Linked DNA regions of Homo sapiens: all the other regions are reported to be linked to region 1. Evidence: microRNA targets listed by miRTarBase, many of them from high-throughput screens and not tested one by one. Region 1 holds a microRNA gene; each other region holds the end of a gene's coding sequence.
The links. The annotated mature microRNA hsa-miR-3691-5p reads AGUGGAUGAUGGAGACUCGGUAC and lies in region 1 at 5,045-5,067, shown strand. An mRNA with a match to its seed (bases 2 to 7 or 8) in the 3' UTR can be bound and repressed. Matches are read on the target gene's strand: a 7mer-m8 pairs with bases 2 to 8, a 7mer-A1 pairs with bases 2 to 7 and ends in A, and an 8mer does both.

Region 1 (7,123 bases):
TTTGGAGGCTGAGGTGGGCGGGTCACTTGAGGTCAGGAGTTTGACAGCAACCTGGCCACCATGGCAAAACACCATCTCTCCTAAAATATAAAAATTAGCCAGGCGTGTTGGTGCACACCTGTAATCCCAGCTACTCAGGAGGCTGAGGCAGGAGAATTGCTGGAACCCAGGAGGCGAGGCAGAGCTGAGATCACACGACTGCACTCCAGCCTGAACGACAGAACGAGACCCTCTCTCACACAAAAAAAATAATAATAAGATTACCAATGGTTCAACAGAAACAAAACCAACAGCCTAGTGTATTGTGACAGTCCTGGGACACAGAGGCAGAATTAGGTACGTACTGCCTTCATTTAAGGAACCTGCAAGCCCAGCGGCCTTAAGTATGCTACTAAGGATATAGTACTAGTTGTCACATAAATAAAATTCTAAATCCTGTCATTAAATAAGCCACCCTTATGCCTTTCTCATCTGGCAGCAAGTTTGTCAGCACAGGGCAGTGGGTAAAGAGTTGCCGTCTGCTGCGTGTTTCCATTTGCCCCGTGACCTAGCCTGGAATTCCTACCAGCCAACAACAGAGGAGGCCCAAGAGGAAGGCTTTCCCCAGAAACACGCAGTCCCATCCCCTGGAAACAGTTCCATGAGCACATTAGCTTAGCTGATTATGAGAGTAGCTAGGCATCAGCTCAGGCACTGAGTAAAGCAGACCTTTGTAATGGGGCTGAGGGAGGAAGCGTGTACAACAGAGGGGAACAGCCAGGCCGGAGACAGACACGCAGCTGGGGCTGCCTCACTTCTCCGTTTGCCTCCACCAGCCATGCCTTCTGACTGGACATTTTCACCAAAGAAGATACGATGGGGTATAGTTTTTAAAAAAATATTAGAAGGATGGCAGATTATTAAAAGCCAGCTCTCGCCCCCTATTTAATCTAGTACGTCATGCCGGCACTGGAGGTAGTACATGTGTGTCATTCATTGTTTGTGGGTGTTTCCCCGAGTGACATAGTTGTCGCTTAGTTGCCGCTTTCCTAGGAAATGCTTTTGGCATCACATACTTGCCTGCAGCTGATCAGGGAAGCAGCTTGGCAGGGCAGGAGAAACACAGAGCTGAGTCTGCCGCTCTCACTGGCGTGCTAACCATGGGCAAGCTGCTTAGCTTCTCAGCGTCATGTTGCTCCTCATCTATAGAATGAAGTTGGGTCAGTGATTTTTCTCTAAGGTCCTTTCCAGTTCCCATACTTAGTGGTTCCAGTGATACATATTGACAAGAATATGGTATCATTCTTTTATTCATTCATCAAATATGCGTGAATCACCCATGTCTGGGAGCTTGCTAGATGCTGTGAGCAATTGCAGCAGTGAATCCCACAAAGATCCTGCTTTCCTGGAGCCTGTCATCCAGCCAGGGAGACAAAATGGGGGCACACAGGATTCTCCCAGAAAGCAAAATGGGAAAAATACTGGTAGAAAAGAACAAGGAAAAACTTATCTTCTATTTGTTAAGCCTCCCTCTGTGCCCTAAAGACTCTATTTGATAATTTATGGACTTTTAATTTAATTATGACAGTAATCCGGTGAGGTGGATTTTATTATCCCACTTTATAGATAAGGAATCAAACATTCAGAGAATAAATAATCTGCCCCTAGTCATGCAGCTAGTAAATTGAGCCAGGATTTCAGAACAAGCCTTTCTGCTTTGAAAGCCCATCCCTTCTCCATTAGAACATGCTGCCTCCTGATAAAATGCTTGGCGAATTGATACAGGAGATAGCATATGCCACCGAGGGCAGGATAAGCATTTTCTGGTAGAGGAGCCGTTTGCTCAAGGACCGAGAAGTGGGTGGAATTGGCACGTGTGACTGGGGAGAGGATTTCCTGGAGGCAACAACTGTGAAGGAGTCGGGGCAAACCCAGTGAAAGGGAGATGGGCCAGGCAGAGACTTCAGAAATTATTTAAAAGGCATTTTGGAGGCCGGGTGCGGTGGCTCATGCCTGTAATCCCAGCACTGTGGGAGGCTGAGGCAGGCAGATCACGAGGTCAACAGATAGAGACCATCCTGGCCAACATGGTGAAAACCCGTCTCTACTAAAAATACAAAAAATTAGCTGGGCATGGTGGCACGCATCTGTAGTCCCAGCTACTCAGGAGGCTGAGGCAGGAGGATCCCTTGAACCCAGGAGGCGGAGGTTGCAGTGAGCCAAGATCGTGCCACTGCAATCCAGCCTAGTGACAGAGCAAGACTCCGTTGCAAAAAAAAAAAAAAAAAATTCAAAACAAACAAAAGGCATTTTGGAGCCCCTGAAGATTTGGAGTAAGAGGTTAAATAAGTAAAGGTCACTTCTAGCCATGCCATGAGAGTACTAGTGTAGACACTGATTAAATAAGCTGATAGGGGCTTGAATTGAAGATTAAAAGTCAGGAAGGGAGAAAAGAAGACATGGAAGAGAATGCTATACCATTCTCATAAAGGCTGTGTCATCAGAAATAGCAAACTCAAACTCAGGAACAGGAGCCAACCTTAGAAACACATTGAGGACTCTGATTTTAGTGACTCTAAGCTGCAAGAGATTGGTTCAGCTGTAGTTCTACAACTCAAGATAGTAGTCAGAGCCTGAGCATGCAGCGGTTACACGCTTGCAGGGGAGAGCTGGAGGCTCGATTGAGAATTAGTAAATGCATGACACTCTGCTGCTCACAGAACATGTGCACATTTGCTATCTCAGATGCTTTTCAAGGTGGCCAAAGGAGAGACCACAAAGAAAGAATAATTATGTTAATAGCTAACAATTAGTGAGGGCCTACTGTGTACTAGGCACTGTGCTCAGGATTTTGCATACCTCAGACCTCACCTCCCTATGAGGTGTCATTATTATATCCCATTTGCATAGAAAGTACCTGAAACCAGGGTATCCATGGTCACAGAACTAATACATGGCCAAGCTGGGACTTGAACCCAGGTCTGATGGCCTAAGGTCCCCAGCCTTGGTTAAACAGAGAAGGAAAGGAGGTGCAACAATAGGGGAAAATCAGAATCCAAAAGAAGAAAAAATTGCAAGGAGGGCAGATATGGTTGGTTTCTCTGTTTATTCGTTTGCCATTAGAAACTTTGAGAATAAAGGTCCAGAATGTAGTTGATTAAAATAATGTACACCTGGTTCACCACTGTTACTGATCACCTGCCTTCTACAAAGCTTACGTATTGAGCTTTTATGGGACAGATGGGCTGCGGTGCATTACTGCCTCTTAATACCCTGCTTTACTGTAGCCTGAAACAAGGGTGGCTGTCTGAATGTCAGCGAGGACTTGGGGATGCCAGAGGCATGCTGCTGTGTTCATCTGCTTCTGTGCATAAAGATTTAACATTTGACGTTTGCCCTTTGTTACATTTATCCTAGAGTGTCTTAACATTATTTTAAAGTGATGGATGTTTTGCTCGTAGGAAATCATTCAGAGGTGTAACAAACGTAGTACCATGATGAACTAGTAAGACGACATGTTCTGGGAATGGCTTGCACCTGCCTGTTGTGCATATGTGTGTCCATGTGTGGACAGGCATGCTTTTAAGTGGAATTGTGTATCTGATGTTTACGTATCTAAATAATGTATATATAATTTGGTCCAGATTTTCTATTACCTCATAGTTTTATTATTCCAATGAGAACTTTATAAGAAGCCCTCTGATATCCTCATCTCCACAGTAGTCAGGGACTTCAGGGTTCCTCTTCCCACCCCCACCCCCAGAAGACATACCAAGATTTTCAGATTAATGCTTCCCCTAATTCTAGAGTATTTTGGAGAATATCTCTCTGGAGAAGCAATAAGGATCAGTGGTTTGAGCTACGACTTTGAAAGCAGACATGTAAAGAGGTTTGAATCCCAGCTTTACGACATGCTATCTGACCTTGGTTAACCACTGAAAATCTCCCTAGCCTCAGTTTCAGTGTCTGAGATAATGAGCCTGACACCATCCTTGATATCTGTGTCCTGGGGACCTGGAGGAATTAATGAGCTGATGCCATAAAATACCGATCCTGGGTTGAAGGGCCTCTCCTGTGAGGTCTTTCTGTTGCAGTGCGTCTTTGTTAGCAGGCTTTTCCCACGTGTCGGGGCTTCTTTCAGGCCCTCATTTTAGTGTTATCACCACATTAGTGCCTATTTCACTTATTTTTGAAAACCTGAAAATATCATACATACTGATGGAAATTTCATTGAATATTAATGAACACTCAGAACTGTACCTGCAACAGAAAGCGAAATTGGCTAAATATTACTCATCCAATCATTTATCTGAAAGATGGTGTCATTTTCCAATCCTAAAAATATAATAATTAATGTGAAATTTCAGGTTTAAAGTACAGTTTTAAAATATCAAGCAAGCATCATGTCAAAAATGAAATTTTATTAAAGGAGCTATTCTAGACGATTAAGAAATGAAAACTTAGAGTTCTAGGGGAAAAATTCAGAACCACGTTTAATTTTATACTTGGAAGCGCGCTACAAATGACAAGGTAATTTTTATATGTATATTTATAGATTTAATTAGCAGTTATTCCATTATATCTTTCATATAACTATAAATGGAAAATGATTTCAGACAAGAGGCTCTCATCTTCAAGAATTATTGTTGGTAAAGTTATGGGAGAGCTGATTTCTCAGTCACTATAAGCAGAGAGAGAGAGAGAGAGAGAGGTGTGTGTGTGTAAAGGTCATTACCTGTCACCTAATATGAATTCTTTCATTAAAAAATACTTTCTATAACTTTTCTCATTTTCTCATCCATGTTTTGCACTTGAGACTATTTAGAAGGCACCATGACTTGTTCAAGGCGTATACCCAGCCCAGCTCAGGATTACGATACAGAGTTCTAACTCTGCCCCCTCAGCCCAGCTCAGGATTACGATTCAGAATTCTAACTCTCCCCACACAGCACGGGAAGTCCTGCATACCCTGCTGATCTGTGGGTGTCACATAGCCTTGAGGCTCATAAAGGTCTTTGCTTCTCCTTCCTGCTTTTACGTTTCAGTGAATATTGAGGCACTGGGTAGTGGATGATGGAGACTCGGTACCCACTGCTGAGGGTGGGGACCAAGTCTGCGTCATCCTCTCCTCAGTGCCTCAAACGGTCTGGGAGCCAATGTTCAACAAACGAGCATGCGGGTGAGTAAAACACAACCAGCTGTAAGACGTGCTGTTCAAAAGGGCGGGCTGGGAGGGTGGCCGGGACACCAGTCACGGATGTCTTCTGTGAGCAAGAGCTCTTTCATCTGGGACCTGGTGATGAGTAAGGTGACGTGAAGGGAGAGTGGGGGAGGGCAGGTGGCCTGGGGAGTGCTAACGAGCTTGGTGTGTTCTGGAACTGAAAGAAGACAGAGATTGTTTTCCCGCTCCATGTGGAGAGAACCAGTTGCCCACTAATTTACAAAAGGAAAGTCGGACAGTAATCTCTCATCAGCGTGGCTATCAATGAGACCTGGAGCTTCCAGGAAAATTTGGCTTAATAAGTACCATACTGTTACTTCCTCGGGAATATTAAAAAGGAAGGAGCGATGAGACAGAAGGGCCTAATTCACCCTGCCGTGGACCACGTCTGACTTGGCCTGCTAACAAAGCATGTTTAGGCAGTAGGGAGAGAACCGAGGGGAGATGGACGTCTCTACATGGAAATATTTTCTGAATGTGAATTTTAGTATCCCTGTTTCCTGTCTTCCTTCAAAGATGAAAAGGAATCCATGTATAAAACAGGTAGTCACATGAGCATATGTAAAGTTTGGTTAAGCAAATTCAAGGACTTTTTCTACTTACCTAGGGCCAGTATATTCTGTGGACATTGATAACCCATAGTTTCAACTGTAACCTCACATTGATCCCCAGTTTTCAGAGAAAGAGGACACCATCTACTTCTGGTCACTGGCATTTTAGGTGAAATCCTGCAGTGATTGTTTACTGGTAGCCTAATTAGGTACGTTATCCATTATTTAACCCAAAATCCAGGTTAAAATATGACATCAGTGACTTTAGCTAGACCATAACTACACACGTTTACTTCCTGGAGTCATTAAACTGCTTAAAGAAAACAAAATCCCAGCACACCCTTGTTTTGTTAAGGTAACAAAATGAGCTCGTATCAAACATAAATACAGGTTTAAATTACTGTAAAATTTTTTTGTGGACTCAAACACAAACATCACAGCAAAGCTTACCTGTGACCCAATTAGGATCATCATGAAAACATAAATCCCAGTTCTACTCAAGTAATACCAATGGCCTGGTACCAATGGCTTCCAGCAGGCCACTGGGGTTTGACTGCCAACTAGGAAAAGCCCCTGCCTCTGGGGGATAGATGATGGGGAAATCATTCCATCCATCTCAGTGCTGAGCTCTCACATGCTCTTCTGCTTTTCTGTAAATTGACCTAAAATGGCCATCTTTGATGGTCTCTCACTTTCCCTCTAAATCCCTGATGTGAGAATGTATTGGAATTATTTCATGTAACAGTGTGTCTGCCCACAGACCGGCCTCCTGGCTCCAGCTTAGCAGTGTCCAACAGTAAAAATAGAAAAGCCCCTGAGTCTTGTCTTCTTTTGAGAGGAAAGAACCCTTTTGCAGAAGGCCCAGGAACCCCCTCCTCTAGCCACTTTGGCCAGAGTTGTGGTATGCAATTATTCCTAAGCTGTTCACTGGACAGGTAGCTGGGCCCCACCACAACTGCCTAACGTCAAGCAAGATTGATGCCTGGGGGCTGTGCTGGGAAGAGGCCCGCTTCAGGGGGAAATTGGGGCTGTGTTGAGAAGGAAGGAGGGTAGCTGTGGAGTGGGCCACTGAGTGGGGCCTGCGTTTCACAAGCATTCCAGGTCCTGCCTGGGGGTATAAATCCTGGCTCTCCCTTTTCCAGCTCTATGGACTGCACAAAAGTATAATACTATCTAACTTCTCGGCATTTCTGTTTTTTCACCAATAAAAAAAATGAAGGTAACAATACCCCCTCAGAAGATAACATGCGAGCAAGATGGAAGCACAGACCTGGCACAGGCCCATTCTTTACTCTGAGTCAAGTCTAGTCTCCTTAGGGACAGGGCATCAATAAGGGACCCCTCAGCACCTTGCACGATTCATTTAGTTCTC
Region 2 (7,123 bases), not on the chromosome of region 1:
TCCCAAAGTGCTGGGATTACAGGTATGACCCACCATGCCCAGCCAGATTTTTTTCAATAAAAGTTACACTTGAGTGTGCCAGCCTTTCCTGTTGCTCCTTCCACCTCCTCTACTTCTTTCACTTCTTTTTTTGAGACAGGGTCTTGCTCTGTTTCCCAGGCGGGAGTGCAGTGGTGCAATCATGGCTCACGGCAGCCTTGACCTCTCAGGCTATAGTGATCCTCCCACCTCAGCCTCCTGAGTAGCTGGAACTACAGGTGTGTGCTACCATGCCTGGCTAATTTTTTTTTTATTTTTGGTAGAGACAGGGTGTCCCTGTGTTACCCAAGCTGGATTAGAACTCCTGGGCTCAAGTGATCCTCCCACCTCGGCCTCCCAAAGTGCTGGCATTACACGTATGAGCCACTATGTCTGGTGTTTATTTTTAATTGAAGTATATTTAGGGACATGAGAAAATGCTCATGATCAAATGGCAGGAGAACGAAACTATATTTACAGTACGATCCCAATTTTGTAAGACACATACACACATTGATGATGATGATGACGACAAGAAAACAGCACATGTGGCTGGGCGTGGTGGCTCACACCTGTAATCCCAGCTACTCGGGAGGCTGAGGCAGGAGAATTGTTGAACCTGAGAGGTGGGGGGCACAGGGAGCCGAGATTGTGCCATTGCACTCCAGCCTTGGGCAACGAGAGTGAAATTCCACCTCAAGAAAAGAAAAGAAAAAAAGAAAATGGCACATGTGCATATATGTTAGGAAAAATACCAGAAAAAAATACACCCCAATGTTAGCAATGTAACCTCTGGAAGTCAGGATCACAGATAACTAATGTTTTTCTGAATACCTTTACTAAATTTCCAAATTTTCATCTGAGCCTTTGTTCCTTTTACAATCAGGAAAAAATAATTAAGATTCCTATTGGAAAATACCATAAAGTGGCAGGGCCACCTGGCTGTCTTTGCCCAGAAGCGGCCAGTGACTGTATGTAGTTCACATGCCCTGAGGCGGCTGCCTTGGTGATCCGAATGCTGTTGAGCTCAGGGTCTTTTAGGTCCTCGTACCCTAACCCTAACCCTAACCCTAACCCTAAGGCGCTCTGGGTTTCTGCAACCTTCGGGAGGTCTAGCACCTAGTATTCCTCTGGCGTCTGAGTTTTGGTCCACTGGCCGTTGGTGCTGGTATCCTTTCCCCTAAGAGTGACATCACTTATTTAGTTCATTTCTTTCTTCCTTCCTTCCTTTCCTAGCCCTTTCCACAAAGGATTTGTAGATGCCTAGAACAATATAATCTGGGTTTCATAGGATAGTCCCAGATTTGTTGCGTTTTCTTTTTTCTTTTTGGTTTAGTGCCACATACCCAGGCTAGAGGGAGGATGAGCACTGTGGTTCCTCCGACCCTGTGCCTGGTGGTGGTCATGCCTGGCCAGAAATGAGCCTCGTACCTCAACTGCAGGCGAGGCCAGATTTAGCTCAGTTTGGGCACATCCTCCCAGGTGTGGTGGAGCCACCTCCATCCTGACCCTGGTTCTTTTCACTGGCTGGCACCTGGAGCTGACTCCGTCCTGGCCTGAGGGCCCCTCTGCTTGCTGCCACCACAGGGGCCACAGAGATGCAGCCCATTTATTCGGAAAACCGAGGCCCAGAGAGTGGCCTTTGTCTTCCACAGGTGTCTGTGGAAGGGCTGGGGAGGGGCGCAGACCTTCCCTGCCTCAGAGGAGGCTTCAGGAAGGGTGGACAAGGGAGGGGAGCAGAGCGGACAGCCACCACTCTGGGGAGACCTTGGACTGTGAAAAGGGGTGGGGGAAGGAAAGCTTACAGGGCACCCACAGGCTGGGGTGCCCACCTGGCAGGGTCTTTGGCTTCTGAGCACCCCTTAAGTTATCCTCACTTCATCACCCCTGTTTTTTTGTTGTCATTGTTTTGAGACAGAGTTTTGCTCTTATTTCCCAGACTGGAGTGCAGTGGTGCAATCTTGACTTACTGTAACCCCCGCCTCCCGGGTTCACACGATTCTCCTGCCTCAGCCTCCCAAGTAGCTGTGATTACAGGTGCCCACCACCATGCCCGGCTAATTTTTTGTATTTTTAGTAGAAACAGGGTTTTACCATGTTGGCCAGGCTGGTCTCGAACTCCTGATCTCAGGTGATCCACCCGCCTCAGCCTCCCAAACTGCTGGGATTACAGGCATGAGCCACTGTGCCCGCCAGTCATCCCTACTTTTCAGCAAATGAAGCTCAGGCATTTTCCGTTTGTCTGTGGTCCAGCCTCCTGCCCAGGTGGGGACTCAGGGACACTTCCTACAGGAAGTTGGGGAACGGCTCAAGGACTGAGCAGTGCTCTGATCTCTGAGGCCTTGGAGCCTGGGTTGGGAGGCCTGAGACTTCTGAAACCCAGCACACACATTCTCAGAAGACAACTCTGGCCCTTTGTCTCTGGCTGTCCCATCATGGTGTCAGAATAACACAGGTCCTTCTCTGAGCCTACCAGAGTTTCCCAAGGGCAAGATTGGCTTCTCTTCATGTTTGTCCTGGCACCGCTGAGTCTCACACACAGTATGTGCTCAATAGATGCATGGTGAATGAATGACTGCACAATGGATACATAAGGAGAGCCAGCTGATCCCTCACCAGGTTGGGCCACTCAGGGGTCAGGCCTTGCTCAGCTTCCCAAACCACATGGTCTGTGCCCACGGCGAAGTCACTGCTTCCTCTCACTTGTCCTGTTTCCCCATGAACTATGAGGGGGTTGGTCAGGTGGTCCACACAAGTCCTTCCCAACCTCCCCCATCCCTATCCCGATGGCTTGTGAGCGGGTTCCCTCCAGGCCTATCCAGTGCCTGAGGCCTTGACACAGCCCAGGCTGCCCAGTCGGGCCTTCACTACATGCTTCTGAGTGGACCAGGATCTGGCATCAGAGCCCAGAGCAGAGGTCAGCCCTGTTCTCCATCTGCAGGGACCTCCGAAGGCCCAGTTTTAGCTCAGGCTGCAGCAAAGCCAGATCCCTACTCCGGTCACTTGGCAGCACTTGCTCACCCTCCCGACATTTCTGGGTTGTGGGAAGGATGGAGAGAGATGATGAAATACCCCTGTCCTGAGCTCCAGGTAGCTTTGGCCCAGGAGAGGGCTCTGGGGCTAACACTCCCCCTAGTGTCAACTCAGGGGCCTTGGGGACCCGAAGAGGTGTGGACAGTTGGTGGCAGCACTGATCCAGGGTGGTGGCTGTGGGAGGAGCGAAGGGCAGCCATGGACAGCAGAGAACCCTGGGCCCCTGCCTATGGTGTCACTCATAATCGTGACAATGACCAGCTCCTGAGTGCCTGTGGCGTTTTTCTTTTTTTTTTTTTTTTTGAGATGGAGTCTTGCTCTGTCACCCAGGCTGGAGTGCAGTGGCGCGATCTCGGCTCACTGCAAGCTCCACCTCCCGGGTTCATGCCATTCTCCTGCCTCAGCCTCCTGAGTAGCTGGGACTACAGGTGCCAGGCACCACGCCCAGCTAATTTTTTGTATTTTTAGTAGAGACGGGGTTTCATCGTGTTAGCCAGGATTGTCTCGATCTCCTGACCTCGTGATCCACCCGCCTCGGCCTCCCAAAGTGCTGGGATTACAGGTGTGAGCGACCGTGCCCGGCCTTTTTCTTTTTTTGAGACTGTCTCGAGAGCTCTGTCGTCCAGGCTGGAGTGCAGTGGTGCAATCATGGCTCACTGCAGCCTCAAATTCCTGGGCTCAAGCAATCCTCCTGCCTCAGTCTCCCAAGTAGTTGGGACTAGATGCATGCACCACCACACTCGACCAATTTTTAAACTTTTTGTAGAGACAAGGTCTCACTATGTTGCCCAGGCCACCTTTTCTTCTTGCTCTAACTCTCCAACTGGAAAAGTATCACTTCTACTTGGGGAAACTGAGGCCTAGAGACAAGCTGAAGTTTCCAAGCTGGCCCCTGAGGGCAGGGCAGGAGAGGGAAGATGGGCAGTTAGAGGCCCTGCCAGATCTCTCACGGGGGGGGCCGTGTGATCCAGCCTCAGAGTGGAGGTTGCTTCATCCAGCTCAGCGGGGACCGTGGTCTTGCCATGGTGTTTGGGCAGTGACTGAGGCCACTGGCACCAGGAGCCTGCTTCTGACCCCCCACCTTCCCTCCCAACCCCGTTCTGCCTGTTTCTCTGCAGCCTGGGGCTGTGGGCCGAGCCGGGTGTCCGCCCTGCGCTGTAGGGCTCCAACTCCTCAGAAGCTGGGAGCAGGGGACCCGCCACCCCTCAGACAAGGAGGCTGCGTGACAAGGATCTGTCCCATACCCTTGCTGAGCTGGGACAAAGCCACACTGCAGGGGCAGCTGCCTGCCTTGCTCCTCCCAGGTGCTCTGTGAGGCCCCATGCCCAGCTGGCGTGCTTTTCTGGGCAGCCTTCCCAGGGCTCGGTGAGCGTGGCCACAGCCGCCCTCACGTCTTGCTTCTCTCCTGTCTTCAAGCCAGTCCAAGCCTCCTCCCTCCTCAGTTTCTCCAGCGAGGGAGGGGGTGGTTCCTCAGGGATTTCGCTCAGTGCTTTGGGCTGGCTGAGACTCCTCAAGAAACCCTGGCTGGCTCTTGGAGCCTCTGTTTCCTCCTCGGTAGAATGGAAATGGGGAGACTTGCCCATACCCTGTGGAGATGTTTGGAGACGCAGATAATGTAAGTAAAAAGTGGAGAGCACACAGTAGGTGCTCAGGAAAATGTGCTCATAGGAGAGTTATGGGTGATGTCAGTCTTGTCCTGCTGTTTGGGCTGGGGCAATAGAGAGGCGCCAGCCGATGCCCGCACCATGTGGAAGCCCAGGTCAAACAGCAGCAGGTCTCGGGGAGAAGGGAACCCCAAGGGGCTCAGGTGCCTCAAATCCCCAACCTCCAGTTTGGCAGGGGCAGTGGGCCGTGGCCTTTTGGGCAGGGGTCCTGTGCCCTGGATCTTGCCCAGCTCCAAAGCTAGTAAGCCCCAGGGAGGCCACCCCCGCCAAGTGAAGTGGGCATGAAGACAGATGATGGCGAAGGGACTTCCATATGCACGAGATCAACTGTTTATTGATTTTTTTCCTCAAATACTACACATGTAAAGGAACTGTTAAACTGAAAAAGACTTGACAATTTTTGGTAAATCCGTAGCACAGAAATGAGGATTTCTGCTGGTAAGTTCTCAGGACAGACACAGACACAGGTCCACTTTCCAAGCAAGACATCTGCTCACTGGAAACGGAGTGAATGCATAGCTGGTGACGGCGGCGGGCACTGCTGAGTCACGTGAAACACAGGTTCCCCCACGTTCCCCCCACCCCCGCCGGCCCGCGTGGCCCCCGCGTAACTCTGGCTGCAGCACCTGCTCCCGGGCGACTCCGGGCAGCCCGAGACACTCGTGCTGCGGGTAAGACCCAGCTTCTGTTTGTGCACAAGTAACACGACGACTGAAATCTGCAACTACTGCAAAGACGCGGGCACTTTTACAGTGTTCTGCTACGGAGCCAGGACAAAGGCCGGTCAGAAGCCGGACCAGCAGTCAGCTGGTGACGACGAGCCTCCCTCCAGCAGGCACCACGTCAGAGAGGCCCCAGGCCCACTGAGCCCGGGAGGAGACCCAGCCGGCCAGCCAGACGTGTGCCTGAATGCCACAGACTTCAAGCAGTTTACAAACGAAACTCACTGTTAAAAGCTGTTAAATCTCATTAAAACAGTAGACGAGTGCTTTAGATTCTCTGAATATCAAATAATATATACAGATAGACACTGAGACATGACAGTCTAATCTAAAGCATCTTTACAGATGCATTTGCTTGAAAAGTTAGTCTTCTTTTTAACTCTGAATCAGTGATAAAATTGTTAATTTGCAAAAGAGTACAGTTTTAAGCAAGAATAGAGTGAAAATAATTTTTAAATATGGCGATTTGGGGGAGTTCTACCTAAGGTTCTATGTAAAGCTTCCATTCAGATGCCCAAAAGCACAAAGAGCATTCCCAATAGAAACCCGACCATAACCCGGTCCCACCTTCCTGGCATAATTCCTTTCCTCAAACATCTGCCACCTGAGGCTAAGCCTACACACGGCGTGGCTGAGTAACAGGGTAAGGGAATAGGGAGATCGTTTCCTCAAGACTGGTGCGCATCAATCTGTGCCATAATTTAAGTAGAAATGAACAGGTGTATAAAAAAGTATAACTGTACACAGCCTTTAAATTAAAAACCTCAAAATCTTCACTCAAAATGGGATGTAAGCTTGTTCATTTAAGTTGCAGGTGATGGACTCGTCAGAGAGAGTAATCAGTGGAACAAGATCAGTGTAACCCACCATTGACTCGGAAAGGAGAGACAAAGTCAAGAACATAGAGATCTATGATAGGCCAACAGGCACAGTGGGCGGGGAGGGGCGGCTATTTCTGTTGTTCTGCGTCTTCCTGCGCTCAGATCCCTCCAGCTGCACTCGGAAAGGTGCCGAGTCCCAGGCGAAATGACCAGCTCATCTGCCTTCCAGGAACACCATGAAGCCAAGAGCAATGGAACCATCATCTCTTGCAGGAAAAGGAGTGGATGCCCACGTGGCTGGCTGAGGCTCCTGGGCCCGCCGCCTCCGTCCCCCCGCTGGCCTGTCCCCGACTCATCACTGGATCGCCTCCACATAATTTGCCGGGTATAGGCCAACTTGCCCGTTGTCCAAGCGTCCCTTGCACCAGCCCTGCTCATCCTCGTCCTCCATCTTGGTCAGCTCATCCCCTGCAAGACAAAGAGGGAGCCGTCTCCATGAGAGGTATGACACCGACGGTGGGCTACAGAGCCGCATTCACGAGCTTTGAGCCCACAGAGGGTGGAGGGCCAGGCATTCTGTGGCGGGCAGGCCGAGGGCCTGGTCATTTCTCTACTAAATGCATGCATTTTAAGTTGCCTCTTTGGTCATGGGCCTCTGACAGACCTAGAGATGACAGTCTCACACAGTAATTTGGAACAAGCTGCTCTCAGCTGCCACAGTGGCTCCCACTGAGACTGCGGCATCCAGCTCCATAGGGCTGTGCCTTCCTCACCACCCTGGCCAGGTGGCAGGAATCGTCCCTCGGTTGTGCCCCTCCCTCACGTTGGGCCTCTTCTGTCCCCTCCCCAGGGCCCCGGCCGCCTT
Region 3 (7,123 bases), not on the chromosome of region 1:
GCACACAGATTTTTCTCTGCATGTTGGTCTGCCAAGGGATGGGAAAGGGGTGGTTTAAGCAATGCAAGACTACCTTTCCTACCCACTTCAATGCCTTTCTTCTTGATATTATGTTAAAATCAGGTACTCCGATCACTCATCTAGTTTTCTGGTTCTTATGAATGTGCTTTCTTGCATGAGTAGTTGTTCAGCTCGTGTTCCTGTGGGGAGAAAATTGATGAATGTTTCTCTTTGGCCTTCTTGCTCCACTGATTTTTCTTTTTCTAGATTTTTACATAAATTGAATGATACTACATGTAATCATCTGCATCTGGCTTCTTTCACTGAGCTTAAGGCTTTTGAGATTTGTCCATATTATGTATAGGCATCCTTTTATATTGCTGGATAGTGTTCCATTTCATAGAGATGCTACAATCGATTGCTGCCATGGACATTATTGTGCATACCCAAAATTTATATGTTGAAATCCTAACCCCCTAGTACCTCAAAATGTGATGTATTTGGAGGTAGGACTTTAAAGAATTAAGTTGAAATCAGCCCATTAGGTTGGACCCTAATCTTACCAGTGTCCTTATAAGAAATTAAGACACACAGAGACACCAGGGGTACACATGCGTACAGTGATGGCCTTGTGAAGAGACAGAAAGAGGGCAGCCATGTGCAAGCCAAGGAGAGTGGCCTCAGAGAAATCCAACACTGCCAGCATCTTAATCTTGGACTTTAGAATTGTTAGAAAATTAATTTCTGTTGTTTGAGCCACCCAGTCTTTGGTATTGTGTTATGGCAGCCCTAGAAAATTAATACAATTACTCATTCACCTATGGATGGTCATTTGAGAATTTTTTTTAAGTGTTCTAGTTATTGGTTAGATGTGAAGTTTCCATACCTTCTCCCCACAAAGTCAAGGCACATCACCCTCCTGGTACATCAACATGTTCACCAACCAGGAAACTCCACCAAGCCTCTGCGTCAAGAGTTCTAAGTTGGTAGGGAGGAACGAGGAGGGGGTATCTCATTTTGTAGCTGTGATTAAATCACAACCACATGGCTGACTTCAATCTCTAGTTCCTTTCCTCTCCCCAAAGGTCAATCTGGCTCAAAGTTTCAACCCTCTTATTACATGGTTGGTCTTTCTGATGAAGAGCCCCCATTCTGAACCTTTCTAGGAGCCTATAATGAATCACTTCGTTAGTATAAAAAATACACTTCTCTCACTCAAAGAATTACAAGATTTTTGTAGTACTAAGCCTGGGACAAAGATCCAGATATATTTTTTATTACACCACAGACTGTATTTAATATAATAATTAATAGATTTTCTACTGTTAAACCAACTTTAAGATCCTAACAAATCTCAAGGCTGGGTGCGGTGGCTCACGCCTGTAATCCCAGCACTTTGGGAGGCCGAGGCAGGCAAATCATGAGGTCAAGAGATTAAGGCCATCCTGGCCAACATGATGAAACCCTGTGTCTACAAAAAATACAAAAATTAGCTGGGCATGGTGGCGTGCACCTGTAATCCCGGCTACTCAGGATGATGAGGCAGGAGAATTGCTTGAACCCAGGAGGCGGACGTTACAGTGAGCTGAGATCGCGCCACTGCACTCCAGCCTGGCAATAGAGGGAGACTCCGTCTCAAAAAAAAAAAAAATCCTAACAAATCTCACTAGAATATGACTTATTCTTTCTCTCTAAGAGATATATAGATATATGTATTAAATATCTTTAGTAGAGGATTTTTCAGATCTCGAGTGAGCCTGGTCAGTTGGTATCTTTCAATGGATTTTTGTTTTCCAAGTTTCAACTTACTGAGAAAGGGTTGTTTAAAACAATCACACATTATCCATTATATGTTTCAAAGTTATCTAGTACTATACTATGTTTCATTGCTCCTATCTGTAATATGTGATTTACGTTCTTTCTGATTAAAAAAAGGAGACACCTTGAATAAATTATTAAAATTGATAGACCTTCCACTATATCAGAAAGAAAAAACATGGGTTCATAGATTTTCTCAAAAAAGAAAAAACTAAATAAGGTTACTGTGAAAATTAATTCTGAGGCCCTAGTACAAAGATGGAGAGCTCAGAGCCCAAAAGTCATCCTGTGTTAAGGAGACATAGCTAAGAGTCTCGGTTTGCCAAGGTAGCTGGAGTCTACAGAGCAGAGTACAGGAGAGAAAAAACTTCAGAGATATAGAGGGCCATCCCCAAGTATTCAGCTGAGTATAATCTGTGTTTGCATATAGAAAAAGACCAGAGGATGGGTAAAGAACCACCTGAAAGGATTATACGGGAAGCAATTCCCAAGGCTTATACAGAAAACATGATAGTTCTCATTTCAACCAGCTTGAGTAAAAAAAACTCATAACTCATGAAGCATTAGGTAGAGAATATAGGAAGGTTGTGTCTCAGTAATGGGAGGGGAATTTGTCTTAAAATGTATGCTGCAATAATCTCATCGAGAAATGTTTAGAATCAAGACTCCCCAAAAGATCATATTGTTTCCAAGTAACTTAACCATGTAACAGAAAAAAGAAATCAAGAATATCTATAGAAAATTAAAAAAAAATCAGTACCTAAAATTCAGTGTCCATTCAAAATTAAACCATGTTAACAGTATCAGACAAGGGAGATTTTAGAGAAAGAATATTACCAGAGATTAACAGGATCATAATGATAAAGTGGTCAACACATCAAGTGGACATAAAATAGGAAATATTTATTATTCACCTAATAAAAACATACTAAAATATGTGAAGCAAAATCTGACAGAACTGCAGAGAAGTAAATCCAATTTAATATTCAGAGATGTCAACAATCCTCTTAAAATAATTGCTGGAACCAAAACCACAGAATGTCAATAAAGATAGAAAAAACTTAAATAACATCAACCATTTTTACCTAATCAACACTTGTAGAACCCCTTCATCAAACGAGAGTACAGTATACATTTCAAGTGAACATGTAACTCATACCAAGATAGCCCATATTCTGGGCCACAAAGCAAATCTCAATAAATGTAAATAATTCAAGTCTTAATGTACTCTGACCACAATGGAATTATTGCAGAAACTACCAGAAAGATAAGCAAAATCCCCAAATATTTAGGAATTAAATAACATACATTTAAAAAGAGCCATGTGTCAAGAAGAATTTTTTTAACTGGAAAACATCCTAAACTCAACTAAAATGAAACCACATCGGCTGGGCTCACGCCTGTAATCCCAGCACTTTGGGAGGCTGAGGCAGGCGGATCACAAGATCAGGAGATCGAGACCATCCTGGCTAACACGGTGAAACCTCGTCTCTACTAAAAATACAAAAAATTAGCCAGGCATGGTGGCAGGCGCCTGTAGTCCAAGCTACTCGGGAGGCTGAGGCAGGAGAATGGTGTGAACCCAGGAGGCAGAGCTTGCAGTGAGCCGAGATCGCGCCACTGCACTCCAACCTGGATGACAGAGCAAGACACTGTCTCAAAAAAAAAAATGAAACCACATCAAGCTTGATGGGAGGTAATTAAAGCAGTTCTCAGATAGATTTTTAACATTAACATCTCTTCCCCATATTAGGGGAAAAAAACCCAAAGGTTTGAAATGAAGGACCTCAGCTTCCATGTTAAAAAGTAGCAAAAGAAATGAAATCCAATAAAAGCGGAAGGCATTAGTAAAACTCAAAATGGAAAAGAAAAATCCCAAAATATCAGAAAACAGAAAATTCAATAATACCAAGTACTTTAAGATCAATAAAATTGTAAAATTGATAAATCTCTACCCAAACCAATCAAGGTTAAAAGAAAAATATAGACATTACCAGTATCAGGAATAGAAGAGGTTGCACCACTACAAATTCTACAAGTATGAAAATAATATTTTGAAAAATTTGAGTACTTAAATAAAACAGAAAAACTCCTTGAAAGACACAAACCATCAAAGCTCACTCTAGAGATAGATGGATGGATGGAGTGACAAACAGATGGACGGACAGACAGATGTATATATAACTAGTATAGCCCTCCATCTACCATGGAAATCAAACTTGTAGTTAGATGCTGTCCTACAAAACACACTTCAGGGCCAGAGTGACAGACAGACAACACACACACAGACAGATGTACATATAACTTGTACAGCCCTCTATCTACCACAGAAATCAAACTTATAGTTAGAAACTTTCCTACAAAACAAACTCCAGGCCCAGACAGCTTCCTTGGTGAATTCTACCAAACATTTAAGGAAGAAATAATACCAATTATTCACAAACTCTTCCAGAGAGCTGAAGAGCAGGAATACTTCCCAACTTACTCTATAAAGCTGGCATTATGCTGATACCAAAGCCAAACCTGGGCAAGATATAAAATTACAAAGAAAAAAAAGCAAGCAAGCAAGAAAGAAAGTTAGGGACAAATATCACTCGTGAACATTGGTGCAAAACTTGTTACAAAAAAACAAAACAAAACAAAACAAAATAGCAAATCAAATTCAACAATATACTAAATGACTAATACATCATGACCAAATGGGAATTATTACAGAAATGCAAGGTTGGCTTAACATTTAAAAAAATCAGTCAATGTAATTCATATTAAACAACTAAAACAGAAAAAGAAAAAAACCATATAGGATTATGGTCACCAGAGTCCAAGAAAACGCCCCACAAATCCCTATTTTCACCTTTGTGTAGTTCTCTTCCACTTTTAACCAGGATTAGCTAGGGTTACTTATGAAATATAGCAGAAATGACGGCTCATCACTTTCAGTTTAAGGTAATGACAGATACTGTGGCTTTGTTCTTGTGTGAGTTCTCTCCTGGATCACTTGCTTTGAAACTATTTCTCTACAATGGAACACTCTTAGCAAAGTACAAATGAAAAGAAATGAACTATGAAACACAGAACACCACCATGAGCCTTAATTTCAGAGTTTAAGAAGCCAAAAACATTAGAATACATATTAAATTACTCTATCTCTGTAGAATTCTAGGAAATACAAACAAATCTACAGTGACAACGGATCAATAGTTGCCTGGGGATGGGTGAAGGAAAGGGAGAAAATATAAAAGGAATCAGGAAACTTTTGGTTTGAGAAGTGCCAACATGTATCAAAACTTATCAAATGGTACACTATAAATATGTGCAGTTTATTGCAAAAATGTTTAGACTGACTTCTGGACAGTAACCTTAGCCATAAGAGACACAGGTATGGAAATATTTCTGTAAACCCTCATAATGGAGCCAGAGTAATGGAAACACATGTGGATGTACCTTTAGAAGGGTCATATTCCCTATAGTTTGCTGCAGTTTTCTCATTCCTTTATTAATCTGGGTTTCTGCACCAACTATGATTCCTACCTGGGCCTTCTGGAGGACAGCCAATATCAACTGCCTACTGAAAAATAGACTTCAGAGATCTTGACATGTCCACTGAGTTCAAATTCTCCTCAAGAAGCCTTGGGAATATGAAGTATCTTCTGGGAACAAGGGACGTAATTCATGTTGCTCCCAGACACATTAGAGATTATCACAACAAATGCCCACTGCTTAGGGTGACCTCAATTACACAAAAAATCTTAACATATAGACCAAAAGATTAGGCCTACAAAGACTGGCATTCTTTCCTAGGAGAGCTGAAGCAGTCAAGTAAGTTAGCTTGACACTAGCATAAGAGCTAGTCTTTGCCATCCTACTATCACTTCAGAGATACAGATAGTTGGAGCTCTCACAAAAGCTGTTCTTCCCTTCATACTGGCTTAGCTCAATTCTGTTCTCAACCCAACCCACAAAGCGAACAGAATCCTCAAGATTTCAGATAGTCTAAAAATTAAGGCATTTGTTGCAAAACCAGAATATGAGGCAGCCAATTTCAGGTCAGGTGTCTTGAAGGCTAGAAAAATTCGTCCCAAGTGCCATGTGAGATCAACTATATCCATGAAGGGAAACCTCTGCCAGTGGTCAGCAGAACAAAGCTCCCATTTTTCTGGCTAAAACTGGGTCATGCTCATGCTTAAACCAGTAGTGGGGCAGAAAAAAAGTGAGAATCCTTGATGGCCTCAGGCTACTGATGATTCCCTCCAGGGAAGGGAATAGTACAGAGGTCTGTCTTTTGAAACACATTGGGGTTACTTTGGCACAAGGCAGGACTCTTCCAGCACAAAGACAGATGGCTTCTAACAGGCACTGCCTTGACGAAATTCCAGCAAGAGTCTAGAAAATTCAGCATAGCTCCAGAAGGCTTCCCATATAGCTGGCACTCGGAAGAACCTCCCCAGGGTGAGTGTTTGAGTGTATAAAGTTCTACTTCTGGCTGTCGGCTACACATAAAGGCTATGCTTGGAGCTTCTCTCTGATGTCAGTTATTATGTTGAACAAGGAAACGGAATTATCTCCCATCCTAAGGCCTTTCTCCAGTGTGAATTTTCCAGTGGCGGATGAGGGAAGCCCTCTGCCTGAAGGCCTTCCCACATTCACTGCACTTATATGGCCTTTCTCCAGTGTGAATTCTATGATGCTGAACAAGTACATGTTTGTGGCTAAAGGCTTTTCCACATTCACTGCACACATAAGGCTTTTCACCATTATGAACTCTTTGATGTGCAATAAGGTCAGAGCTTTGGCTAAAGAACTTCCCACATGCGATGCACTCATAAGGCCTTGCTCCAGTATGAACACTCCAATGTTTAATGAGTCTGTATTTGTGACCAAAGTATTTTCCACATTCGCTGCACTCATATGGCCTTTCTCCAGTATGGATACTCTCATGCTGAACAAGTGTAGATTTGTGACTATAGGCTTTCCCACATTCACTGCACTTGTAAGGCCTTGCTCCAGTGTGTACTCTTTGATGTACAATAAGGTTAGAGCTATGATTAAAAACTTTCCCACATATGCCACACTCATAAGGCATTTCTCCAGTGTGGATTCTCTGGTGCTGAGCAAGTATGGGTTTGCGGCTAAAGGTTTTCCCACATTCACCGCACTCATAAGGCCTTTCTCCAGTGTGGACTCTCTGGTGTTGAACAAGTGAGTCTTTGCGGCTGAAGGTTTTCCCACATTCACTGCATTTGTAATGCCTTTTTCCACAGTGAGAGGCCTCCTCACACTTGGTGTTGCTGTGTGGCTTCCACTC
Region 4 (7,123 bases), not on the chromosome of region 1:
TTAGAGAAACTGTAGGGTGGCTGATGGGCAATGTCCCTGAGGACTCTGAGAACCTTTTCACTTACAGTGGGGAAGCCATGGGACCTGGAGAGCCCACCTAATAAAGGGAAATGAACTTGAAAATCAATATTGTAAAGACAGGAATTTGGGCTCAGACTTTTGAAAAATCATTTTTTTGGACCTGTGCTCTCCAGAGGGCTAGAAAAGTGGCAAAAGTCTTTTGATGAAAGGAAACCTTGAATCTATCTGATAAATCTAAGATCTAATCAGTGTTTACATACAGTAACATAAGAATCCATTAATTAAAATGTACTTGGAAAGCATTTAAGAGCACATTCATTTGTTCACTTTTTCTTATTATGCTATAGATAGGCATAAAACCTTTTTGGGAGAGGTTTGTATCATTGTTTTTTGGAGATGGAGTCTGGCTCTGTCACTCAGGCTGGAGTGCAACGGTGTGATCTCGGCTCACTGCAACCTCCGCCTCATGGGTTCAAGTGATTTCTCCTGCCTCAGCCTCCTGAGTAGCTGGGATTACAGGTGTGCACCACCAAGCCTGGCTGATTTTTGTATTTTTAGTAGAGACAGGGTTTCACCGTGTTGATCAGGCTGCTGTTGAACTCTTGACCTTGTGACCTGCCCACCTTGGCCACCCAAAGTGATGGGATTACAGGCGTGAGCCACTGTGCCCGGCCTGTATCATTTTTACATTAACAAATGGAGCAGATTTCTTTATCTATTTGAGTTGTTCAGAGATCTTGATATGTCTACTTCTGTTGTCATTTCTTGAAAGGGTCCTCTCTAACGTCTTAGGTCTGGAAGAATTAAGTCTGTTTTTTTTCTTTTTGAAGCTTAATTTTAATTTTCTCTTCAATAATTCTTGTAATTTATACATATTTTATGCATGTCATTTATGAAACTCCAATCTTGTTAATGTCCGATAATTGATTAATCTATTTTCTTCTGCTTTTATTTTCAGATAGAAGAATTTCGAAGGCTGAGGACACATGTTAAGGGGGCAGAACTTGTGGAAGGCTGTGATGGGATTTTGGGAGACAACTTTCGGCCCACTCAGCCTCTTAGTGACAGAGTCATTAGAGCTGCATTTCAGTAGCCAAAGAGGACAGGAACAAGTCTGTCTTCATGAGGGTATGTCCAGATTAAGTAAGGAAAATGAGGTGCACAGCTACTTAAACCTAGCGTACCAAAGGTACACTTATTGTGATCCTGGTAATTTAGTAATAAAAGCGTATGTACTTCATCTTGATAAAATTTATGACACATTCTTGAGCTCTGTTAATTACAGGTCAAGTAGGTATTTTAATTTTATGCAGTATTGAAGAAAAACTATGATTATATTTTCCTATCAGAGTAGCCTTTAATTCCAAGTTTTGGTGGCTTTCATAAGAACAGACACCCTCAGGCCCAGAAAAAGTGACATGCATGCATACCTCTTTAGTAACTTACCATGTTGTCCCCGTGAAGCAGCACCAGTCATGTCCCAGTGACCAAGGAGCACATAGGAGGGGACTTGGGGAGCGTGTGAGCCTCAGTGTGGACCCTTCTCGTCTCCTGCAGAATTGATCCTCTTGTTTCTCAGGGGAGGGAGCATATCTGGCATGCATTGAAATACTTCTTCTATGGAAGTGCCTTTTATATGATAAATTGAGAAGCACTTATTAATTATCTGAATATGATACACTATTGATTGAAACATAATCTATGTATTTTAATATATAGAATTCAATGTATGTATTCCTTACTCTTAAGGAACTAACAAAATAAAATATCACAAACACGGAAGAGATAAAATATAAAACAAACTATATATTGGATTATTTATTTACCTTGTAAATTTCCTAAGTGCATAGGTCATTGTACATCACTGGCAAACCACAGCTTCCCAAGGGGAAGGCATCTGTTGGAATAGAACCTAGGGAAGCAGCGAAATCTCATCTCTATAAACAATTTAAAAATTAGCTGGGTGTGGTGGCATACGCTTGTAGTCCCAACTATTCAGGAGGCTGAGGTGGGAGGATCACTTGAGCCTGGGAGGTGGAGGCCGCAGTCAGCTGAGATCACACCACTGTTCTCCAGCCTGGGTGACAGATTGAGATCGTGTCTCAAACAAAATGAAACAAAACAAAAAAACGAAGAAGTCTGCCAGGTAGCCAGGGTGATAGATGCGGAGGCTTGGACACTAGAATAGGAACAGTGGAGGTGGAGAGAAGTTGATGTATATGAAATAGAAATCGCAGGTTATAGCTAGTGATGAATTGGATGAGGGGTGGAGGGAGATGGAAGTGTCAAAGATAAATTCCGGGGTCTTACACTTTGGAAACCCTGGATGGAGTGCCACTGAGTGGCAGTGGGAAAGCTGCGGGGAGGCCCTGTTTGGTTGAAGATAAAGAGTTGAGTTGCAGCACAGTGAGTGAGAGATGCCTGTCAACCACAAACTGCAATAGCGGACTCTGGTCATGAAGGTCATTAGCATTTCAAGAGTAGAGAACAGAAAACAAGTCTGGGTTGAAATAGGGACGTATTGGGTGTAGACATTGTATATGTTCATATAATGTTCTGATGGATCTAATGGGGTTACTTAATTAAGTGTGCATAAAATCTTGTGGGAGGCTTTACAGACAAGTTAGCCAAGACACAGATAAGTTAGGTTACGGGCCAAAGTAATACAGTGATTGAGCAGTGGAGCTGAAGGAGATCCAGGCAGCTTGACTGGCAGAGCCCTTTTTCTTCACCACGACATGGGCAGAGGTTAGAGAGTTTTGCCACACTGGCGGTCGAGTGACACATCAAGGAGGGATGTGGTTGCAGCAGGCTAAAGGCCATAGGAAGGGAGGAGCTGGAGACTCCAGGTCGCAGCCACCTTGGTGGGCTGGGGTGGGGCAGGAGGCCGCAGCAACAGAGACGGGGTGGGATTGAAGAAGTCTTTTTTTTTTTCTTTTTTAAACAAAAGAAATAGAACTTGTCTATATGCTGGGGTGTGGGAAAGGAGCAAGTAGATGGAGAGAGGCTGAAGATACTGCTTCTGGGAGGAGCTGGAGCAGTGAAGTCTGAAAAGTTGAAAGGGATGAAATCCTAAGCACACAGGGAGACTGGCTTTTGCTGAGAGGATGGGCACTCTCTGTGCTGCAATGGGAAGGAAGAAAGAAGGAGGTGGTGGTTTAGAGCTGCTGTGTACCCATGACTTGCTCTTACCATTTAATGATGAAGGGGCAGGAGCTAGGAGTGGGAGAGCAGCAGTGAAGATGGATAGGAGCAGAGGAAGAGGGAAGGATGTGTTCACAGGAGAGGCCAAGAGGCAGCGGGGGTGGGATGAGGGTTGCAAAGCGTGAATTTATGCATTTCTCCAGTCTAGGTTTAGTTAGTATACTCCCTGTGAATGTCAATACCTGTAAATGATACTTTTAATGAAGGGAGATTATTCCCTTGAATGTTTGGTTTGTATCTTGTCCTAGACCAGAGTTGCCATTCTCTAAATATCTAAATGACTATTATTATTTTCTCTCTCTCTTTTACACACACACGCGCACACACACACACAGAGAAATGTTGTTTATGAGATTTTGTATATTTCACATACTTCATATTCTTTATATGATAGATGAATAATGTGTAGTTTTTCAAAGTTTTGAGTTAATTACAATTTAGGTACTATTTCTAAAAGGAAGATATATTTGTGTTCTTACTTTGGTGGCTGAGATTACTTAAAGGGGATAATTTGCTCCCAAATTCCTAAGAATGGTACAGGAATTCTAAGGTGACTAATTCTTATTTCATTTTTTTATGAATACTTTTATCTTGAAATGTGTAATACAAATCTGGTCAGAGTTCTATATAAAAATTATATTGGGAATCAGACTTATGTGTGTGTACTTTTTATTTGATATTTAATAATGCCCTAAGGCAGGTAATTCAAATTTTTATTAAAGTGAAATGATTTGACAGTCAGACTTTGAATTTAATGCATGAATGTTTCATTTAAGCTCTTGGAACTAAAAAGGAAAAGACATTTCTCTGGTAGTTGTTCTCTAAAAAATGTTTAAAATAATTCAGATATATTTTAGCTATGTTTTACTGAAATAACTTTAGTTTTAGACTTAAAATGACAGATTTTTAAAAAAATGACATGTCTGGGCACCTGGAAGACTTTGATAACCAAGCTTTATTATTCCCATGAGTAATCTGTGACTTTTTATATTACCATTTAAGAAGTATGAACTATGATTTTGTATTATACTTGTTTAAAGAATTAGTATGTAAGTCATCCAGGTGCTGGAAATTCTTTGGTTCAGCGGTGCTAATTCAGATTTATGGGTGCCTATTGATATTAAATGATCCTTTACCCATTGAATTTTCTATATGATGCAGGAGAACTAAATGTATTTTAATAACAATGAACAAATGATATAACAAGTTTAAGGTCCAGTTTACTTGTTACTTTTGGTATCATGACATTGGTACTCATCTTCCAGCAAAATGATTATTTGATTATTTGCCTTTTTACTTCATAAAGTGTTAGCCCATTTTTAAAAGGCTGTTCTGACGCTCAAAGACTGTCTCGCTTGTGACCTAAATATTGTTAAGCTGTATACATGTTTACAGTAACTATAATGAATTATAATTATTTTCTGTAAAAAGCAATGTCACACGGCTCTTTAGTTTCTCTTTTTTTCTGCCTTAAATGTGGAAAAATAAGAATGCCCTAAATACGTTAAAAAAGAAACAAAGCCAGAAAAATGGGGTTATTCAGCAAGCATCTCCAAATAGTCCCATTGTCAAACTTGCCCTTATTTTTCTTTTGGGATCTTTGAAGTTATCCTTGACTGTTGAACTCTTCCCTACTTGTACTTTTGCGGTTAATAATATTGTCTTCTTAGCTTTAATAAAGCTATAACAAGTATCAATTTCATATCAGTCTTCTTTGATAACCTAAAAGAGTTACAGGTTAGAAGAGGGTAAGGCATTATAGAGAAGGGGGTGCCTGTGTGAGGAAAGGAAAGTGAGAATGTTCACTCTGAATGACCAAGTAGGTGAAAGCTATTATCCTTCCAGATTAAATGGAAAGCTCAAAGCCATATTTTCAGTCAGTAGAACTTGGACTCTCCTCTGATAATTTAACATGGTGCACAGCATTAGGGTTAGAACTGAAGGCTCTACAGATGTAGCTGTTTTCTATTTATTATATCTCATAGAATTTCCTCCAACTGGAATGGATTTCCTACCAGATCTCAAAATGATTTCAGTAAAATGCCAAAACACCAAGGATGCTCAGAATACCTATTATGTTTTGATTATGTGATATAAAAATTATTAACCCACCAATGAAAAATACAAGAGCTGTATGAGCTCTCTTCAAGATTACTAAACAAAGAAAATAATTCGTGCTTTAAAATATATCTCTTCCTTTTTATGTTTTAGAAATGTTAATAATTTATCATGGATAAAAATTTCAGAATGATTTTTTCCTCCCACTATGAATTAAAACAAAATTGTGTTTGGGAGGAAGAATGTTTTGCAGTCATGGGCCAACTTGTATGTCGAATGTTAATATGTTCTGATACCCTAGATACAGTAGATTTCATGATTTTAAACCTAAAGAATATATTTTTCCATAAGGAAATCACTGTGACCAGTTTGTCATTTAAACATGTTCTTTCATGCCTTTTACCTCATGTATACTCAAAAGTGGACATTAAAAAATGGCTTTCAAGTATCAGCAAAAGGCTTTGAATTAGCTAAGGAAAGAATTTATTTCTAGAGGCTCCAAGAAAGACCTTTCCTGTAAGTAGGTGGTTTAAATCTTGAGTGGGTTTTTGAGGAAGACTAAGGCATTAAATACTTGAGGTTCCTAGGTGGTTTAGGTGGGAACCTGCCTGGACAGGGATTGGGGAAATGTTCCAACAGACCTCACAAAGGCCCTTCGAGCACTGGATATTATAGTTCCCTGGTTTATGATGAATATGCTTTCCTGTGTCTCTATTAAATTTATCATGGAAAAGAGAAACCAGAGAGAACAGGAAGCAGGTAAATGAGGAGGAAAATGAAGTGAATTTTTTTTATGAATTAGGTTTTGTTAGTAAGTCTCCAACTGAAAACATAAAGCTTAAAAATTCATCTAAGGAAATTACTAAAAATGCTAAAAAAACAAGTGCAGAAATCATTGGAAATCACCTATACTTTAATCAGGAGTATAAGGAGATACTTTTTTAAAAAAGCATTGAATAAATTTGTTTTAATATTTTCTGTACCTCTTAAAAGAGGGTATTATAGAAGCAGTAGTATCAAATAAAGCTTTTATGTCAGCATTTCATTATGATTAAAAATCTTAAAAATAGAGGGAAAATAGAATCAAAATAGGATTTATACTGAGATTACTATTTTTTCAATTGGAAAAACTGAGAGACTTGCCTAAAAGTCTACCTCATTCAGATTAAAATAAGGGGTTAAGGAATTGAAACTTTATTAAAAACTGGATTGTTACTAGGCAGATACCAAGAGTTCATATTAGACCGTGTAAGAGTAGTGACAATCAGGGAAGTTATCCTTTTTCTTTCAATAAAATTTTACCTGACCTTCAGTTTTCTATTTGTAAGCATCTCATTTTTCTTTTTTTTATCTCCAATCTTAGCACCTTGACAATTTGTTTTAGCTGTCTGCCTTTTTTGGGTCACTCCTAGAAATCTGCCAACCTAAAGTCTAGAATGTTCTCCTCTCTGTTTTCTGTTTAAATGCTGTTGATATTTGAAGGACCAGGTTTTACCTCCATGAAGTCTTTTTCCCAAGTAAACTGACCTTACTAATCCTTCTTTGCTTTCTGAGTTTAGTACCATGTTAGTTTAGTTTTAAATTATTATTTTTTTTTGTTTTCTACTGCACTTAGCAGTTTTAGTTTTACTTACTCCACGAGACTATAAATGTCTACGTAGTAGAGTCAAACAAGTTTGTAACATACTTCATTAAGCAGGTTTTCTTCATGCAAGACTTCTGAGAATCTTTACTATGCCAGGGACCTATGTGAACTCCAAGAGGGTATGGTATAGTATACAGCATTTCACAAATTTATTTAACCAGCTAATAATACGAGATTGCAGAATATGTTTTGGTA

Region 2: miRTarBase lists PACSIN2 as a target of hsa-miR-3691-5p. Seed matches in the 3' UTR shown: 7mer-m8 at 6,540-6,546.
Region 3: the mRNA of ZNF772 is a reported target of hsa-miR-3691-5p. Seed matches in the 3' UTR shown: 8mer at 5,252-5,259.
Region 4: miRTarBase lists CA8 as a target of hsa-miR-3691-5p. The part of its 3' UTR that is shown has no 7-base or 8-base seed match.

Annotation. Positions count from the first base shown.
Region 1 is chr6:5,146,230-5,153,352 of GRCh38, reverse strand. It overlaps MIR3691 (microRNA 3691), which reads left to right and starts at 5,031; the gene lies at 5,031-5,120. All of the region lies in intron 2 of LYRM4 (LYR motif containing 4), which reads left to right. The region is part of intron 3 of LYRM4-AS1 (LYRM4 antisense RNA 1); the gene reads right to left.
Region 2 is chr22:42,864,744-42,871,866 of GRCh38, forward strand. PACSIN2 (protein kinase C and casein kinase substrate in neurons 2) reads right to left here. Exons shown (of 11, transcript NM_001184970.3): 11 at 5,030-6,726. The coding sequence ends at 6,614. It overlaps LOC101927393 (a long non-coding RNA gene), which reads left to right and starts at 6,671. Exons shown (of 3, transcript XR_001755575.2): 1 at 6,671-6,760.
Region 3 is chr19:57,466,886-57,474,008 of GRCh38, forward strand. ZNF772 (zinc finger protein 772) reads right to left here. Exons shown (of 4, transcript NM_001144068.2): 4 at 2,701-7,123. The coding sequence ends at 6,389. Among named protein-coding and RNA genes, the nearest start is that of ZNF772, 7.1 kb to the right of the region's middle.
Region 4 is chr8:60,202,776-60,209,898 of GRCh38, reverse strand. CA8 (carbonic anhydrase 8) reads left to right here. Exons shown (of 9, transcript NM_004056.6): 8 at 980-1,149. The coding sequence ends at 1,114. Among named protein-coding and RNA genes, the nearest start is that of CA8, 75 kb to the left of the region's middle.